Linked DNA regions of Homo sapiens: region 1 is linked to region 2. The links come from fine-mapping of genetic effects on plasma protein levels. Region 2 holds a variant in brackets. A gene starts in the other region. All regions are shown on their reverse strands.

Region 1 (8,343 bases), not on the chromosome of region 2:
CCGAGTGGCTGGGATTACAGGCTCACACCACCACACCCAGCTAATTTTTGTATTTTTAGTAGAGACAGGGTTTTGCCATGTTGGCCAGGCTGGTCTCAAACTCCTGGCCCCAAGTGATCTGCCTACCTCGGCCTCCCAAAGTACTGGGATTACAGGCATGAGCCACCATACCCGGCCTCAATATATGCATTTTTAATAGTCAAGTTGTAAAAGGTTTATAACTAAAAAAATAGTGAATTTCTTTCCCACTTTTTTGCATTAAACTCTTTTGAGCTTGTTCTTCTGGTTTTTACCTTCATATTACTCACAGCGTGTTTATGCTGGTATTGTCTGATTGACCAATTTGAGACACTATTTGTTGACTCCCTGTAAAGGTGAATAGACTTTGGCTTTCTTACACCCCCACCCCGCTTCCTCTCTACCAATTTTTCCAGTGTAGTCAAATCAAAATATGTGTTAAGTTGGGGCACAGTGGCTCATTTCTGTAATCCCAGCACTTTGGGAGGCTGAGGCAGGCAGACCACTTGAGGCCAGGAGTTCAAGACCAGCCTGGCCAACATGGTGAAATCCCATCTCTACTAAAAATACAAAAATTAGCCGGGCATTGTGGTGCATGACTGTAATCTCAGCTACTTGGGAGGCTGAGGCATGAATCACTTGCACCCTGGAGGCAGAGATTTATCCGAAGTATTCCATGCAGTGAGCCAAGATCGCACCACTGCACTCCAGCTTGGGTGACAGAGTGAGACCCTGTGTCAAAAAAATAAATAAATAAAAATAAAAATGGTGTATTAAGCCAGTAGCCAGATTTTACATTATTACCAGCATGTAACTATTAATATCTTTCACACTTAGCAAATGCACCATAATTACATTTCTTTTCTCGTACAAAATTTTATCTTTCCTGGTTGTAATAATTATCTCATTTTTTGTTTGTTTGTTTGTTTGTTTGTTATTTTGAGACGGAGTCTCGCTCTGTCACCCCAGCTGGAGTGCAGTGGCATGATCTTGACTCACTGCAACCACCACCTCCCTGGTTCAAGGGATTCTCCCACCTCAGCCTCCCAAGTAACTGGGATTACAGGCATGTGCCACTGCACTCAGCAACTTTTTGTATTTTTGGTAGAGATGGGGTTTCTCCATGTTGGCCAGGCTGGTCTGGAACTCCTGACCTCAAGTGATCCAACTGCCTCTGCCTCCCAAAGTGCTGGGATTACAGGCGTGAGCCACTGCACCCAGCCTTCATTGTGTTTTTTTCTTAATTTCCCAAGTATCCATCAAAAATTCATCCCATGGCTGTGGGCAGTGGCTCATGCCTATAATCCCAGCACTTTGGGAGGCTGAGATGGGAGGATCACTTGAGACCAGGAGTTTGAGACCAGCCTGGGCAACATGGCAAGACCCTGCCTCTACAAAAATTTAAACAAATTAGCTGGGTGTGGAGGCACACCTGTGGTTCCAGCTACTTGGGAGACTGGGGCAACAGGATTGCTTGAGCCTGGAGGTTGAGGCTTTACTAAGCCATGTTCATACCAGTGCACTCCGGTCTGGGCAACAGAGCAAGACCCTGTCTCAAAAAAAAAAAAAAAAAAATTCATCCCAAGTATTCCATCATATCTGCCAAACACCTATCAAAGTTATTTTCAAATTACCTAAGTACATGAGCTTATTCGTGACACTCACTACCACCACCCCAAGGCTTATTCCTCTGCTCTTCTGCCCCAGCCTGAGGTGGTTATTAAAGTAATTATTCTCCAAAGATGCTTCCCCTACCACTCCAATGAACCACACTTCCTCGCATTCACATCCTTGTATTGCTCCCTCCACTTGAATTCTCTGGGATGGCCTTATAATTTGCCTTTTGACCAATAAAATACTGTAAAAATGATACTGAATGTTACCTAAGGCTAGGTCATAAGAACCTTTGTGGATTATTCCTGAGCATGTTGGAATGCTAATTTTTGAGAAAGCCAGATCCTATGTAAAAAATCCAACTACTCTGAGACCACCATACTGTAAGGAAGCCCAAGCTTCCATGTAGAAAGGTCATGTGGAGAGAGACAGTTGTCAGTCCAGCCCCTATCTCTTCTAGTCATTCTATTAATTTGCTAGACATACAAGTCCAGCTAGAAGTGTCATTTTGGATGATCAGTCATGTGAGTGAGAAAGTTATCTTGGACAAATAGTCCAATCTAGTCTTGAGATAGCCACTGTCACTGGGTGAGAGCTACCCAGCTGAACACTGTCATCCCAGGGAATCATGAAAAGTACATTGACATTGTTCAGGCACTAGGTTTTGGGGTGGTTTGTGATGCAGTGAAACAGTTCCCCTCTAGGTCTGTTCTGCAGTTTTCTTTGTGAAATTTTTCTTCCCTGGAGTTAGATGTCATGTTTTCTGGACCCCATGACTTTCTGTTTCCTGGTTATTTCTCCCGTTTTGCTACAGATTTCTCTTCCATAACTTCTAGGAAAGGAAGTATAGTAAGTAAATTTTGAATCTATGTCCAAAAAGGCCTTTATTATGATCTTACATTTGAGAAATAGATTGTCTGCGAGTAGGATTCTAGGTTGAAATTAAATTTCTCCTCTGGATTTTTTTTTTTTTTTTTGGACACAGGTTCTCTGTCTGTTTTCCAGGCTGGAGTGCAGTGGCACAATCTCAGCTCACTACAACCTTCACCTCCCGGGCTCAAGCAATCCTCCCACCTCAGCCTCTGGAGTAGCTAGGACCACAGGTGCGCATCACCACACTCGGCCAATTTTTTGTATTTTTGGCAGATATAGATTTTCTTTTCCTCTTTTTTTTTTTTTTTTTGATGGAGTCTCCTTCTGTCACCCAGGCTGGAGTGCAGTAGCATGATCTCAGCTCACTGCAACATCTGCCTCCTGGGTTCAAGTGATTCTCCTGCCTCAGCCTCCCAAGTAGCTAGGATTACAGGCATGCACCACCACACCCAGCTAATTTTTGTATTTTTAGTAGCGACCAGTTTTGCCATGTTGCTGGGACTTGTCTTGAACTCCTGACCTCAAATGATCTGCCCGTCTTGGCCTCCCAAAGTGCTGGGATTACAGGCGTGAGCCGCCACGCCCGGCTGATACAGGTTTTTACCATGTTGCCCAGGCTATTCTGGAACTCCTGGACTCAAGTGATCCACCCACTTTGGCCTCTTAAAATGCTGGGATTACAGATGTGAGCCACCACACTCGGCCTTCCCTCTGAATTTTGAAGGCATTCGTGCATTATTTTCTAGCTTTGTTGTTTGGAACAACAATGCCATTCTATTTCCAAATCCATTCAGTGCAATATGTTGTTCTTTCTCTCTGGAGTCTTTTCGTATCTTTTCTTTATGTCTGATGTTCTCATATTACATGATAATGTCTTGCTTTTTGGGGATATTTTTATTCATTGAGTTTAGCATTTGATTGACCCGCTCAATACTGAGAGTCATCTCCTTTAGTTACGAGAGTCTTTCCTTTATTATTTCTTTAGTAATTTCCTCTCCTCTATTTTCTTTTTTAATGTTCTGAAACAATCCTAGTCCTTTGACTTTGTAGATGGTTATAATTTCTAACAAATTTTCTTAACTTTATTTTTCAAAACTTCCATAAAATTCGGGACATTTTTATAATGTCTATGTTCTTTTTCATGAATGTAAAATCTTTCTTTCTGAGAAAATATTAGCTTTTTAAAAAGTTTTTGAAGTTCTCTTTAGCTCTCCCTGTTATTTTTGTCTCTTTTTTATGTTAAATGCTTTCCTCAAATGTCTGATGATCCCTGGTTATCTGTTCATATCTGAAAGGGACACTAAAGACTCATTAACAGTTCTGCATGCATGGCTGAGGCTCATGCACTGATGAACTTATTGAAGGAGGGTTGAGTGGTTTTGTTGGGGAACACTCAAAACTATAAATATCTGAAAATGTTTTATTGGGACCACTTAGTTTATCCAGAGATTAAATCCTCCAGTTTCCTGGGATAGAATGGGGAAAGGATCCCTTGGTTCTGTGGGCATTCAGTGGGAAGATTCACTCTGAATCCCGTTATTTTCATCCCTGCTCATGTTAGTCTGGCTTCTCTGGGTCTAGAACCTCACCTGATATTTAGATTTTTCACTGATACCTTCAGTAGAAGCAATGTTGAATGTTTGAGGTTTGCTGGCTGTTTACAATCAATTAAGGATTTTTAAAAATCTAGAACATTTGTGAATTCTTATATTTTCTTCCTGGTACTAAGTAGGAGCTAGCCACAGGTAGGCCTCATCATATGGATACATTACCCAAACGGTCACAGGTCAAAGGACAATGTAGTGATTAACCATAAGCTTTGGAATCAGGAAGTTCTGGGCTTCAGTGTCTTCCTAAAACTTAAAAAAAAATTTAATTTTTTTATTAAACTTTTTTTTAAATAAAAAATTGAGATGGGGTTTCGCCATGTTGATCAGGCTGGTCTCAAACTCCTGGCCTCAAGCGATCCTCCCATCTCGGCCTCCCTAAGTGCTAGGATTACAGGTGTGAGCCACTGTGCCTGTCCTCACTTTTCTTTCTCCATTATTAGGGCAAGGAGGCCAGGGGACAGGGTGAGGGAGAACCTAGAATGGGAATGGAGGCAACTTTCAGTCTAACTATGCTTTGGCCCCATGAGGAATCTACATGTAAACACTTGCCAGTATGGAGAGTCAATTGCACTTTGTGACAGGCTGTACAGCAGTTGGGACAACTGTGGCACATGCACAGGTTATACAGGCATATTTGCACCAGCACATGCATGGATGCTTGTGCACATATAGGAAACCCACTATACACATGGACAAAGAAGCACAAGTATGTCCACGCCATCCCTCCACACACACACTAGTCACCAGGAGAAAAGGGCTCAGCACATTTCATCATGCATCGCCCATTGGGGGAAGCCATGTAGGACAGGAGAAAGGGAAGATTATGAGGCAAAAAGAGAAATGAAACTAAAGAGTCCCACCCTGTCAGCATTAACTGGGATATAAGAGGTTGGGCTTTGGATAGATAGACAGACTCCTGGGTCCGGTCAACCGTCAAAATGTCCAAAGAACCTCTCATTCTCTGGCTGATGATTGAGTTTTGGTGGCTTTACCTGAGTAAGTGTTCTGAAACCTTCTATGTAGAAGTTTCCAGAGGACTTGCTATTGTGTGATGGATTTCCATGCACTGGTTTGGGCCTCAGTGAAGCAGAAGCTCACTTCATTTCTGCATCCCTCCCCTCTCCCTACCAGGCTTCCTTCTGTGGAGGGTCTCTGTCCTGCCTTGTTACACAGAGGTTTATCCAGAGACTGGTCTGGGGGTTTTAGGCTGGGGTAATTTGGGCTTATATTGGAAACAGCAACTGAAGAAGAGACACAGAAATAAGTGGTCAGATAAATTGGGGAAAAGAGATTTCCTCTATGGGTGTTATTCATATAATCAATAAGCCAGGAGAATTTGTTCTGGTGAGAATTGTGATAATTCTTATCATTCCCTCTGTTTTTAGAAGTGTTTGCTTTTTGTTTTGTTTTGCTGGGGTGAGGCTTTATGTAAGGTTTCTTTTCTGCACGTTGTTTTTGGGTTTTGGATGATGCAAGTGTACACACTCAGTTTTGGCCAGTGAAGTTCTTTGCATCCTGGTGGTATAGAGCCAAGTGTTCTGGCCTGAGCTGCAGCTGCGTCTCGGGCACTAACTGTTGACACTGGGAATATGTCTAAATTGCTCTGGCTCTCCCATATTTGAAATGAGAGACCTGGCTTTTTAAATGACCAGTTGTCACAATCTGTGCTTCTAGGACAAGATAATATTGAATGGCCCTTGCAGTTTTACAAAAGTCCATTTTTTTTTTAAATGGATACAAAATAACTATACATATTTATGGGCTACATATGTGTTATTTTGATATATACATACAATGTACAATGATCGAATCAGGGTAGTTGGGATATTCATTTCTTGAAACATTTAAATTTCTTTGTGCTGAGAACATTTCAAATGTTCTCTTCTAGTTATTTTGAAATACACAAGAAATTATTAATAACAATAGGCACCCCACTATGCTATCAAACACTAGGACTTATTCCTTCTATTTAATTGTATTTTTTCCCTTTTTCCTCATGTTCTAACTAACTGTATTTTTGTACCCATTAACCTGCCTTTCTTCATACCCCTTTTCCCCTATCCTTTGTAGACTCCAGTGACTATCATTCTATTCTCCACTTTCATGAGATCAACTTTTTTAGCTCTCATGTATGAGTGGGAACATGCAATATTTGTCTTTCTGTGCCTAGCTTAACTTAACACAATATTAATAAACTCTGTTTCCATCCATGTTGTTGCAAATGACTGAGTTTCATTCTTTTTTTATGGCTGAATATTCTACTGTGTTTATATACCACATTTTCTTTTTTTTTTTCTTTCTTTTTTTTTTTTTTTTTTTTTTTTTTTTGAGACGGAGTCTCGCTCTTTTGCCTAGGCCGGACTGCAGTGGCACTATCTCTATCTCGGCTCACTGCAAGCTCTGCCTCCTGGGTCCACGCCATTCTCCTGCCTCAGCCTCCCAAGTAGCTGGGACTATGGGCGCCTGCCACCATGCCTGGCTAATTTTTGTATTTTTAGTAGAGACGGGGTTTCACCATATTGGTCAGGCTGGTCTTGAACTCCTGACCTCAGGCGATCCACTCACCTCGGCCTCCCAAAGTGCTGGGCTTATAGGCGTGAGTCACCGCACCTGGCCATATACCACATTTTCTTTATCCATTCATCCATTGATGGACACGTAGGTTGCTTCTATATCTTGGCTATCGTGCATAGTGCTGTAATAAACATGGGAGAGTAAATATCTCTTTAATTGATTTCCTTTCTTTGGGATATATCCCCAGTAGTGGGATTGTTGGATCATATGGTAATTCTATTTTTAGTTTTTTAAGGAATCACCATACTGTTTCCCATAATGGCTGTAGTAATTTACATTCCCACCAACAGCGTACGAGAGTTCCTCTTTCTTTGCGTCCTCGCCAGCAATGCTTGCTTTTTGTCTTTTTGATAGTAGCCATTTTATCAGAAATGAAGTGATACCTCATTGTGGTTTGGATTTGCATTTCCCCAGTGATTAGCAATGTTAAACATTTTTTCTTCTACCTCTTGGCTCTTTGTATGTGCAGAAACCTTTCCAACATGGTGCATGAGAAAACACCCATATTTGAAGGAAAACAAATGTGTTTCATCACCTCTCAAACTTGTACTATTCTCTCTGCCTTTCTTTCCTCCGTAGTGCCATGCATCCTCAGGTCCCTACTTAATTCAGGCTTTTCCTGGCTACCTTGTAGCCTCTGGAATAGTTCAGGTGTTTCTGCTATGAGTTCGCATCCTCCTTGGAGTTCCTGCATCTGTAAACTTGTCACTCTATAGCAAATGCTCACTCATTTGACTATCTTCCTAGGTACTCTGCAGGCCCCATGAGGGCAGCCCAGGTCTGCTTTGTGGCTTGTTATATTCCAGCACCTAGTTCCACCCTTGATACATTATAGGCACTGAAGAAACAATCTACAGGCCAGGGGTGGTGGCTCATGCCTATAATCCTGGCATTTTGGGAGGCCGAGGTTGGTGGATCACCCGAGGTCAGGAATTTGTGACCAGCCTGGCCAACATGGTGAAACCCCGTCTCTACTAAAAATATAAAAATTAGCCAGGCGTGGTGACATGTGCCTGTAATCCCAGCTACTCAGGAGGCTGAGGCAGGAGAATCGCTTGAACTAGAGAGGCAGAGGTTGCAGTGAGCCGAGATTGCACCACTGCACTCCAGCCTGGGTGACAGAGTGAGACTCTTTCTGAAAAAAAAAAAAAAAAAAAGGGGGAAGAAAAAAACAATCTACAGAATGAAAGCAGTCCCTGTCACTTTCACACTTATATTTTGGGTTTGGTATGGGTTTGTTTGGATGTAAGAAAGCTACCATCTGCCTTTTCATCAATTTTTTTTTACTGTCTTTGTCTTATCCTGGAAACTTGAAGTTTGGAAGGTTTTGTTAGGTTGAAAGTTGCAGGGGTCTATGTCTACATGTCCTGCTACTAGCAAGACACTGGTTGAGGGGAATTTTCTAATCCTGCTTGAAGGAGGCAGCACCTGGTGAGCTGTTTTTTGTTTTATTTTGTTTTTTTTTTCATAGGTGCCTTTTCTTTTTTCTTTTGTTTTTCAAAATATTTTTGGGTTTTTTCGAGACAGAGTCTCACTCCAATGCCCAGGCTGGAGTGCAATGGTGCAATCTCGGCTCACTGCAACTTCTGCCTCCCAGGCTCAAGCAATTCTCCTGCCCCAGCCTCCCAAGTAGCTGAGATTGCAGGCGCCCGCC
Region 2 (8,343 bases):
GACAGCAAATGTATTATTGCTTCTAAGTCACATGAGACCTAAATATTCCTGCCTCAGCCTGGGTTCCTAAAAAAGCAGAGTCTGAACCAAACTTATAAGTGCAATTATTCCAGGAGGCACTAGAGAAGGAGGGAGACACAAAGCAGATGTGTAATATAGAGTCAATCACCCTGTGGGCCACTGGTACTTGATCACCCTGGGTCTGCTTGAGAAACTGATTGAAATGGTTTTCCATTTCATTTGGAGGTTGCAGGGGGGAGAAGATGGAAACATTTATTAATCAGTTCCTAACCCCATTGGTCAAAATTCCACCCCAAGTGTGTTAAAAACCCCTCTCCCCAGACTCAACAGGGAAGCCCTGGAGTGGGAGGCAAGAGGCTTGTTTAAGGAATGGTTCTTTGGGTTACACTTATGTGAGGTTGATTGGAGTCTGTGCAAAACCAGTCGCTACAGTGGTTTTTGGAATAAGTGAAAGGTGGGGCAAAGAGAATCTGATACAGGGCACAAAAGGTATCACACACATCCTTCAACCTTACCATCTTATGGGGACAATAAATTTACATTAACATAATTACCAGAATCTTGCTGCCTCCAAGCTCCAGCTAGCTCACTTGGGAACTCCAGGACTTTGCACAGACTTCCTTCCCCAAGTGTTGAATAAGTCCACAGAGGGTGCCTAATAAAAGCTCTGATGGTGCCCCTGACTACAAAATTCCTGGCTTCTGCTGTACTGCCAGTTCCTTATCTGACTCCAGAGCTGGCAGTCCTCCTGCTTCTCCTCAGGAGTTTGGCATTCTCTTGCAAAGTGGGAAGAATGTTGTGCCTCCGGAGAATTGCTTGGACCTATGGAACATTATAGAACTTAATGAGCCTGCACTTTCCATGCATAAGGCCAGTGAACCCAGCCACCGTGCATCCCTGGGGTGCTTGTGTGCCTCTAGGAGAGCTGGGGAAAATGATTGATGTGCCAGCTGCCATGCCATAGTCAGGACTCACCTCTGCTCAGGAGCTCAGGGTCTGAAGGGCATTGTGGCTGGCATGGCTGGTTTTTCACATTACTTTCCTTTATAGTTAACTTCATTTTCGGGTGTGTGTGTTTGCACGTGCACTGGTTTCTCTTCCTCTCTTTATTCTTCTTTATTTTCATTCCTTCCCTGCCTCCACCAAGTCTCCCAGATATGTCTCAAATATCTAATTCTCAGCCAGGGGCATGGCTTGAGATTTTCTCCAGGATTCTCCTTGGTCCTTATGTAAATTATGAGGGCAAATAGATACTTGGATGGGATTTGGATATCGCCAAATTCCACACGCCAGAGACACATGTATCTTGGCTCTGGCCCAGGTGGGATCTAATCTGTATCACAAGTTATATATCTTATCTCTACTATCCTAAGGACTCTATGGATCATTCCATAGATGAAGCTGAATAAAATCCTTATGAATATGTATAGTTGACCTTTGAACAACATGGGGGTTGGGGCTCTGACCTCCCAAGCAGTAGGAATCTACATATAACTTTAGACTCCCCAAACACATAACTACCAATAGCCTATTGTTGATTGGAAGACTTATTGATAACATAAACAGTTAACACATATTTTATATGCTATATGTATTATATGCTGTAGTCTTATAATAAGATAAGCTAAAGAAAAGAATGTTATTAAGAAAATCACAAGGAAGAGAAAATATGTTTACTATTCAGTAAGTGAAGTGGATCACCATAAAGGTCTTCATCCTCATCACCTTCATGTTCAGTAGGCTGAGGAGGAGAAGGAAAAAGAGGGGTTGGTCTTGCTGTCTCAGGGGTGGCAGAGGCTGAAGAAAATCCAATATAAATGGACCCATGCAATTCAAACCTGTATTGCTCAAGGGTCAACTGCATTTAATTTAGAACAGAACAAATCTTTTCTTCTAAATGCAGATGATCCAAATTCAAAGAAAAAAAGAACATGTATTTTACCTTAAACACTAGTAGACTTAAGTTAGGTGAACCACCTTAAGTGTGTATCAGCCAGCCTAGGCTATGTCTTTGTGACCTGAGGGATAGAGGAAAATAACAAGACTTTAACATTCCTACTTTGCTGCTGGAGAATTTGAGGCACGAGAAGCTTCAGACATAGCCTAGCACAGTGGTTCTCAAACTAAATCTTGCATCAGAATCACTTGGAGCGCTTGTTAAAACAGATTGCTGGGCCCCACTCCCACATACTCTGATTCTGTAGGCCTGGGGCTGGGCCCGAAAATTTTCATTTCAAATAAGTTCCCTGGTAATAATGACACTGCTGGTCCAAATACCATACTTTGAGAACCGCTGGTCTAGTAGCTTCAGCTTGAGATCAGATGACTATTTTGGTTTCTTTCTTCCAGGCTAGATCTTGTTTCATGGCACTTTCTCTAGTAAAGTTGGCGCTTAATAAAGCTGATCATTTTCAAATAGATTTTAATTGTGTACTTTTGGCATTAATAGATAAAAGACCAGAAAGCAGGTAGTACATCCAAATCCAAACTAGAGGAAAGTATTTTTTGAAAGAACTCTTAGTGCTATATATCAGGATTTGGCAAATTACGGTCCGTGGGCCAGATCTGGCCTACCATTTTTGCAAATAAAGTTTTATTGAAACACAGCCATGCACATTCATTCATATAATGGATGGTAGGTTTTGTGCTACAACATCAGAGTTAAGTAGTTGCAACCAACAGAGGCTGTATTTACTAAAATATAAAGTATTTACTTTACAAAAAACGTTTGCCAACCCCTGGTCTATATGTCTTTCTGAGCAACTCTTGGCTGATTTAGGGAAGTTTTCTCTTGAAACCCAGCAGTAAGCAACATCAGTTTACATTAGCAGATATGAAACTCAGATCCTAACACTTTCTTCCGCCCTCCTTCGATCCTTCTCCCTCAACATGGAAAGTGGCCCAATAAGTGAAATGAAACTTGGCCTGATCAGCGATATTAAGAAAGTGGAAGGTGAAAGTGTTGACATCTGCTTGTATTTTGTAGCCCCAGCTTCTCTGGCAGCATGTGACATGGTGAGAGTGCTCTGGTCAGCTAGCCGTCTCACGTTTTGTGGAAGATTGTCTGGTGTTATCTGACCTTGGTTGGATTTATGTCTATGAAGATGTGTGGTTTGACAAAAGATCTACATCCCTTTCTACATAGTGGCTTGCTAGGTGAACTCTTCCTTCTTTGACTTTTGACAATTTCAGTAAATTTGAGTGTCTGTTGTATATTCGGTATCTGTATGTACACATTGATAAACACATCTGCATATTTTGGGGCATATGTTTAAATCATGGTAAAACACACATAACCTAGAAATTACTGTCTTAACCATTTTTAAATGTACAGTTCAGTAGTGTGGTATTTTCACGTTGTTGTGCAACAGATTTCCAGAACTTTTTCATCTTGCAAAACTGAAAATCCATCCCCATTGAACAACTAACACTCCATTCCCTCTTTCCCGTAGCGCCTGCCAGTCACCATTCTATTTTCTGTCTCTACGAATTTGATTACTCTAGTTACCTACATAAGGGGAGTCGTACAGTATGTATCTTTTTGTGAGTGGCTTATTTCACTTATATAATGTTCTCAAGGTTCATCCATGATCTAGCATGTCAGGATTTCCTTCCTTTTAAAGGCAGAATGATACTCTATAGTATCATATGTATACATCACATTTTTTTTATCCATTCACCTGCTGACAGCCCCTTGGGTTGTTTCCGCCTTTTGGCTATTGTGAACCGTGCTACTATGAGCATGGGTGGGCAAGTATCTGTTTGAGTCCCTGCTTTCAATTGTTTTGGGTACATACCCACAAGTGGAATTGCTGGATCGTATGACAATTCCAGTTTTAATTATTTGAGGAAGGGCATATATGTGTTTTAATCGGGTATGCCCATCCTAAACTTTTCGCCTCTTACCTCCTTCCTGATTTTATCTGCCCCTCTGTAGTTGGTTCAGGTCCCCAGAGAAGCTGGCGCCAAGGCAAGATTAAAAGTGCAAGACAGGATTAAAAGTATTTAGTGGGGGAAATGCTGGTGGAGAATAAAATGAGGAAGCAGGAATAGGC[G/A]GGAAAGCCTTCACACTGCAAAGCGGATCTCACTGGAGGAAAGAAAGAGGATTGTGTAGAAAGTCTCAGACTTCAGGGCAATTCTAATAAAGCTGCAGGTAGGTAGATGGGGGGTGCTTGAGCTCAAAGTTGGAGGAGTTCCATGTTTCTCAGGAATGGGTCAGTGCTAATATTGCCATCATTGGTGGGGCAGCTGGGGAAACGTACCCTCTGAAGAGATCTGAGTGGCCACTTTCATAGTCACCATGCCCTTATGTCTCCACATATTGCCACTGAAGATGTAATTTTTTTTTTAAAACAGAAAAAGTGCAGGGCATATTCTGGCAATGTTATATGCGTGGTGGAGAAAAGACTAGGAAGTCAAATGGGATTGGGTGGCAGGGCACCTTAAATGACTTTATTCTGCAATGAAAGGTAAGCCATGAGAGGTCTGTAAGGAGAATAATATGGTTGCTTTTCTGTTTTAAAATGCACTGCTCAGATCTGTGCAGAGGACATGTTTTCCTGGCTGCCCCACCAATGATGGCAATACTAGCACTGATCCATTCCTGAAAAACATAGAACTCCTCCAACTTCTAGCTCAAACACCTACCTGCAACTTTATTAGAATTGCACTGAAGCCTAGGACTTCCTACACAAATGTGGCACTTATCACAATTTGCCCATATGGTTCCCTTTTACTTACATGCGCTTCCTCTCTTAGCCACCCGTTGAAATACTACTTTCTTTTAAACTATTTCTTCACACAACCATAAATGAAATTAGCAGCTCCCTCCTTGAAAGTCTAATTTATTTAGGAAACATTATTTGAAATTATTCACTGTATATACTATGAAAAATACAAAGATGAATCAGATTTGAATTCTGTTCTGAAGGATTGACTTTAATAGGAAAAGTGATATCCCATGAACACTATATTAAAAGGAGAAAGTAAGAAAAGCCTTAAAGCTGGGTACAGAGAAAGTGCAGTGGGAATTCAGAAGAGGGAAAGATGATCTTATCAGAGAAATCCACTATAAGAGGTAGGCCTTCAAGAATCAGTAGGATTTGGGCATGAGGAAATGAGGAGAGGAGGGAATGCCAGATTAAAAACATAACAGGGGCACAGGTATGAATTTTAAAAGAACAGCATTGGCCAGGCACGGTGGCTCATGCCTGTTATCCTAGCACTTTGGGAGGCTGAAGAGGGCAGATAGCTTGAGCCCAGGAGTTTAAGACCAGCCTGGGCAACATAGTAAATCCCTGCCTCTACTAAAAATTAGCTAGGTGTGGTGTCATGTGCTTGTAGTCCCAGCTACTTGGGAGGCTGAGGTGGGATCATCACTTGAACACGGGAGGTCGAGGCTGCAGTGAGCCAAGATGGCACCACTACAGTCCAGCCTGGGCGACAGAGTGAGACCCTGTCTCAAAAGAAAAATAAAAAAGAAAAATAAAAAAGTCCTGACTGATTAAGGTTTTTCAAATTGTGCATAGACCCATTTGTAAAGTGTGAAATAAATTAATAAATTTAGTTTTCCTCTTATCAAAAAAAGAAATAGAATAGGATGGAGAATGTTTGAAGTGTATGGTATGCAGTAAGGGTATTATTTTGTAAAACTTGTTATGTATATATATATATATTTCTACATATATAATGGGTCACTATGTAAATGTACTTCTTCCTGTGGGGCAAGCTTCTTTCTTACATGAGTTTATTCAACAGGATGTCATCATGGAGCATATCTCACATGCTGACCATTAAGCAAAGTCCTGTGTGTGTGTGTGTGTGTGTGTGTGTGTGTGTGTGTGTGCGTGCACATGTGTGTGTGTTTAGTGATGGAAAAAAGCTGACATAGTCTCCATCCTCATAGAGAATATGATTCCGTATAGTGATTCTCAAATTTTCGTGGTATTAGAAACACCTGGAACACTTAATAAAACAAAACACAGATTTTCGGATCCTGCCTTTAGAGTTTCTCATTCAAGGTCTAAAGTGGGGCCTGGGAATTTGCGTTTCCAACAAGTTCCCAAGTAATGCTAAAGACAGTGGGCAGGTGGGTGACTTAAATCAATACAAATTAATACATGATGGCAAACTGTGATAAGTAGTATGAAGGAGATGAACAGGGAATTAAGAGAGAGAATAACTGGGAAACTGGGAAACCTATTTTATGCTGGATGGTCAGGAAAAGGTGTCTCTGGATGGTCAGCAAATGTGTCTCTGAGGTCAGGAAAGGTGACCTCAGAGAAAAGGTGTCTCTAGGAAAAGGTGTCTCTGAGGAAGTGATGTGTAGGCAGTGGGAACAACATGCTCAATGATTCAGAGGAGCTCAGGGAAAACAAAGGTTAAGTGAGATTGGAAAGCAGGCAGGGACTGGACCATGCAGTCCAGCAGTTTTCAAAGGGGAAATACGTGCATTCCTGGAGCAATGAAGACTTCCTACGAGGTAGGCAGGCACACGTGGTTTTCAGAGAAATGCCTTCCTTATGTGCTCTCCTAAAATGGATCTGCTCAATAGCCAGCACTTTGGTACTGATCATTTACCTTTCGTGTCTTTTTGCGAAAGAGAGGCATACGTACTACCTAGCAAATCTTACTAGGGTATTTTGTCCTAGGATGTAAAATTACTTGAGGGATGAAATGAGGAATAACTCAAAATCTTGACTTTGCTGTTGAAAAAATGAATGACTTTAATCATGGAGTAAAAAAAAGTTTTTACTTGTTTTTACTGGTTTTCAAGTCAATTGGTTTCTAATTCTTGGCTTTCTACAAAATCGTAGAACTTTTAGTGTTATTGCTATAACAAAATGTCTTTCATTTCCTCTATTTAGGTGACTAAAACAACTACTTTCTCAGTGCTTACCTCCATAAAAATGAAAAATTGGGAAAAGAATTGATTCTGAAGATGGCTACAGTTTAGCATTAAGGAATATCGAATTATAAATACAGTAACTCACTTAATATCATCAATAAGTTCTTGGAAACTGCTATGTTAGTGAGATGATGTATAAGGAAACCAATTTTACCACAGGCTAATTGATATGAACAAGAATTAAGTTCCTATGGCATATTTCTGGTCACATAAATGTCACCAAACTTCTAAATAAAGAAAAAAAACTTACTAAACTTTAAAATAAGTGTGAGCTATACATACATTTTAAAAAGATGACTAAAACCAAGTAAGATAATTATTTATCAGTCTATTCCAGTTCAGGGCCACGGGTGGCTGGAGCCTGTCTGGGCAGCTCAGGGTGCCAGTGGGAATTCACCTTGGACAGGACACCATTTCATTGCAGGACGCATTCACACCCACACCCACACTCACACGGGGACCGTGTAGACATGCCACTTCACCCAACGTGCACATCTTTGGAATGTGGGAGAAAACTCACGAAGGCCTGGGGAGAGCGTGCAAATCCACGCAGATGGCAGCCCAGCCTGGGAACTATTTTTTTTTCCCAATAACATTATAACAAAACAACGTTGAAGGAAACAAGTTTATTCAAAGACCTGCTATACATGAATTAATCGGATGAAAAACATGCCACTGAATTTGTTAAGAGATTCATTTCTCGAGAGCTTGTTTGGAGGTTCTAGCAGGGGAACGCAGTTACTCTTGTTACTCCTATACCCTTGACCGAAGACCCATCCTCCTCCATCAGGGATGGTTGTCCTCTTTGACCCAGCATGCAGCTTTGGGAGGGACGCACATGGAGCAGTGAGGGAGGAAGGGGACACCACCTAGCCAGCCAGATCAGCTGAATCAACCCTGGCGATCAATGGGGTGACAGATATTGCAGCCAGATCACCCTCACATCCAAGAGATTCATTTCTGATACAACATACTTTATATGTTTAATAATTATCTATATGATTTTAAATATGTTTATGTGATGTTGATTAACTGTACATTTGAAATAAATGTAATAATAACTCCAAGAAGAATACTTTTTAACACTTGTTATGGCCACATGAAAATTTTTAAAATTCCTCTCTTCCTCTCCCTCATTTTTATATATACAGTGTATATGAAAATAAATGTAGTACAGACATATTATATATACATATACAAATATATAGCAGGAACAGATATATAAATATAAACACATAAATATAAGTATAAGCATATATATAGAGTTGCGGAAAAGCATAATAAGATGATCAAAATACTCTGAAGCCAAACAATATATAAGAATAACATTCTCTACATGGTAAGTATAATGGAAATATGAGTTTAAGGAGAAAATGAAATAATGTACTCAGGTACCCTCAGATAAAGAAGGAAGA

Which allele goes with the higher level. Positions count from the first base shown, and alleles are read on the strand shown. Strength reflects both the effect of a copy and how common the allele is.
In carriers of allele G in region 2, the plasma level of the protein whose gene starts at base 5,026 in region 1 tends to be lower than with A alone (weak association).

The links. PIP is the chance, under the fine-mapping model, that this variant and not a neighbour inherited with it causes the effect. Protein levels are from antibody-based Olink assays in UK Biobank. Linkage for the fine-mapping came from a reference panel and not from the study's own genotypes, which makes the PIPs less certain.
Region 1: it holds the start of TIMD4, and the variant in region 2 is fine-mapped to the plasma level of the TIMD4 protein (UK Biobank, PIP above 0.99).

What each region holds. Positions count from the first base shown.
Region 1 is chr5:156,959,909-156,968,251 of GRCh38, reverse strand. It overlaps TIMD4 (T cell immunoglobulin and mucin domain containing 4), which reads left to right and starts at 5,026. Exons shown (of 9, transcript NM_138379.3): 1 at 5,026-5,111. The coding sequence starts at 5,054.
Region 2 is chr6:105,903,905-105,912,247 of GRCh38, reverse strand. It overlaps the pseudogene RN7SKP211. Among named protein-coding and RNA genes, the nearest start is that of PRDM1, 180 kb to the left of the region's middle. The variant G/A (reference allele first, on the strand shown) is at 4,077.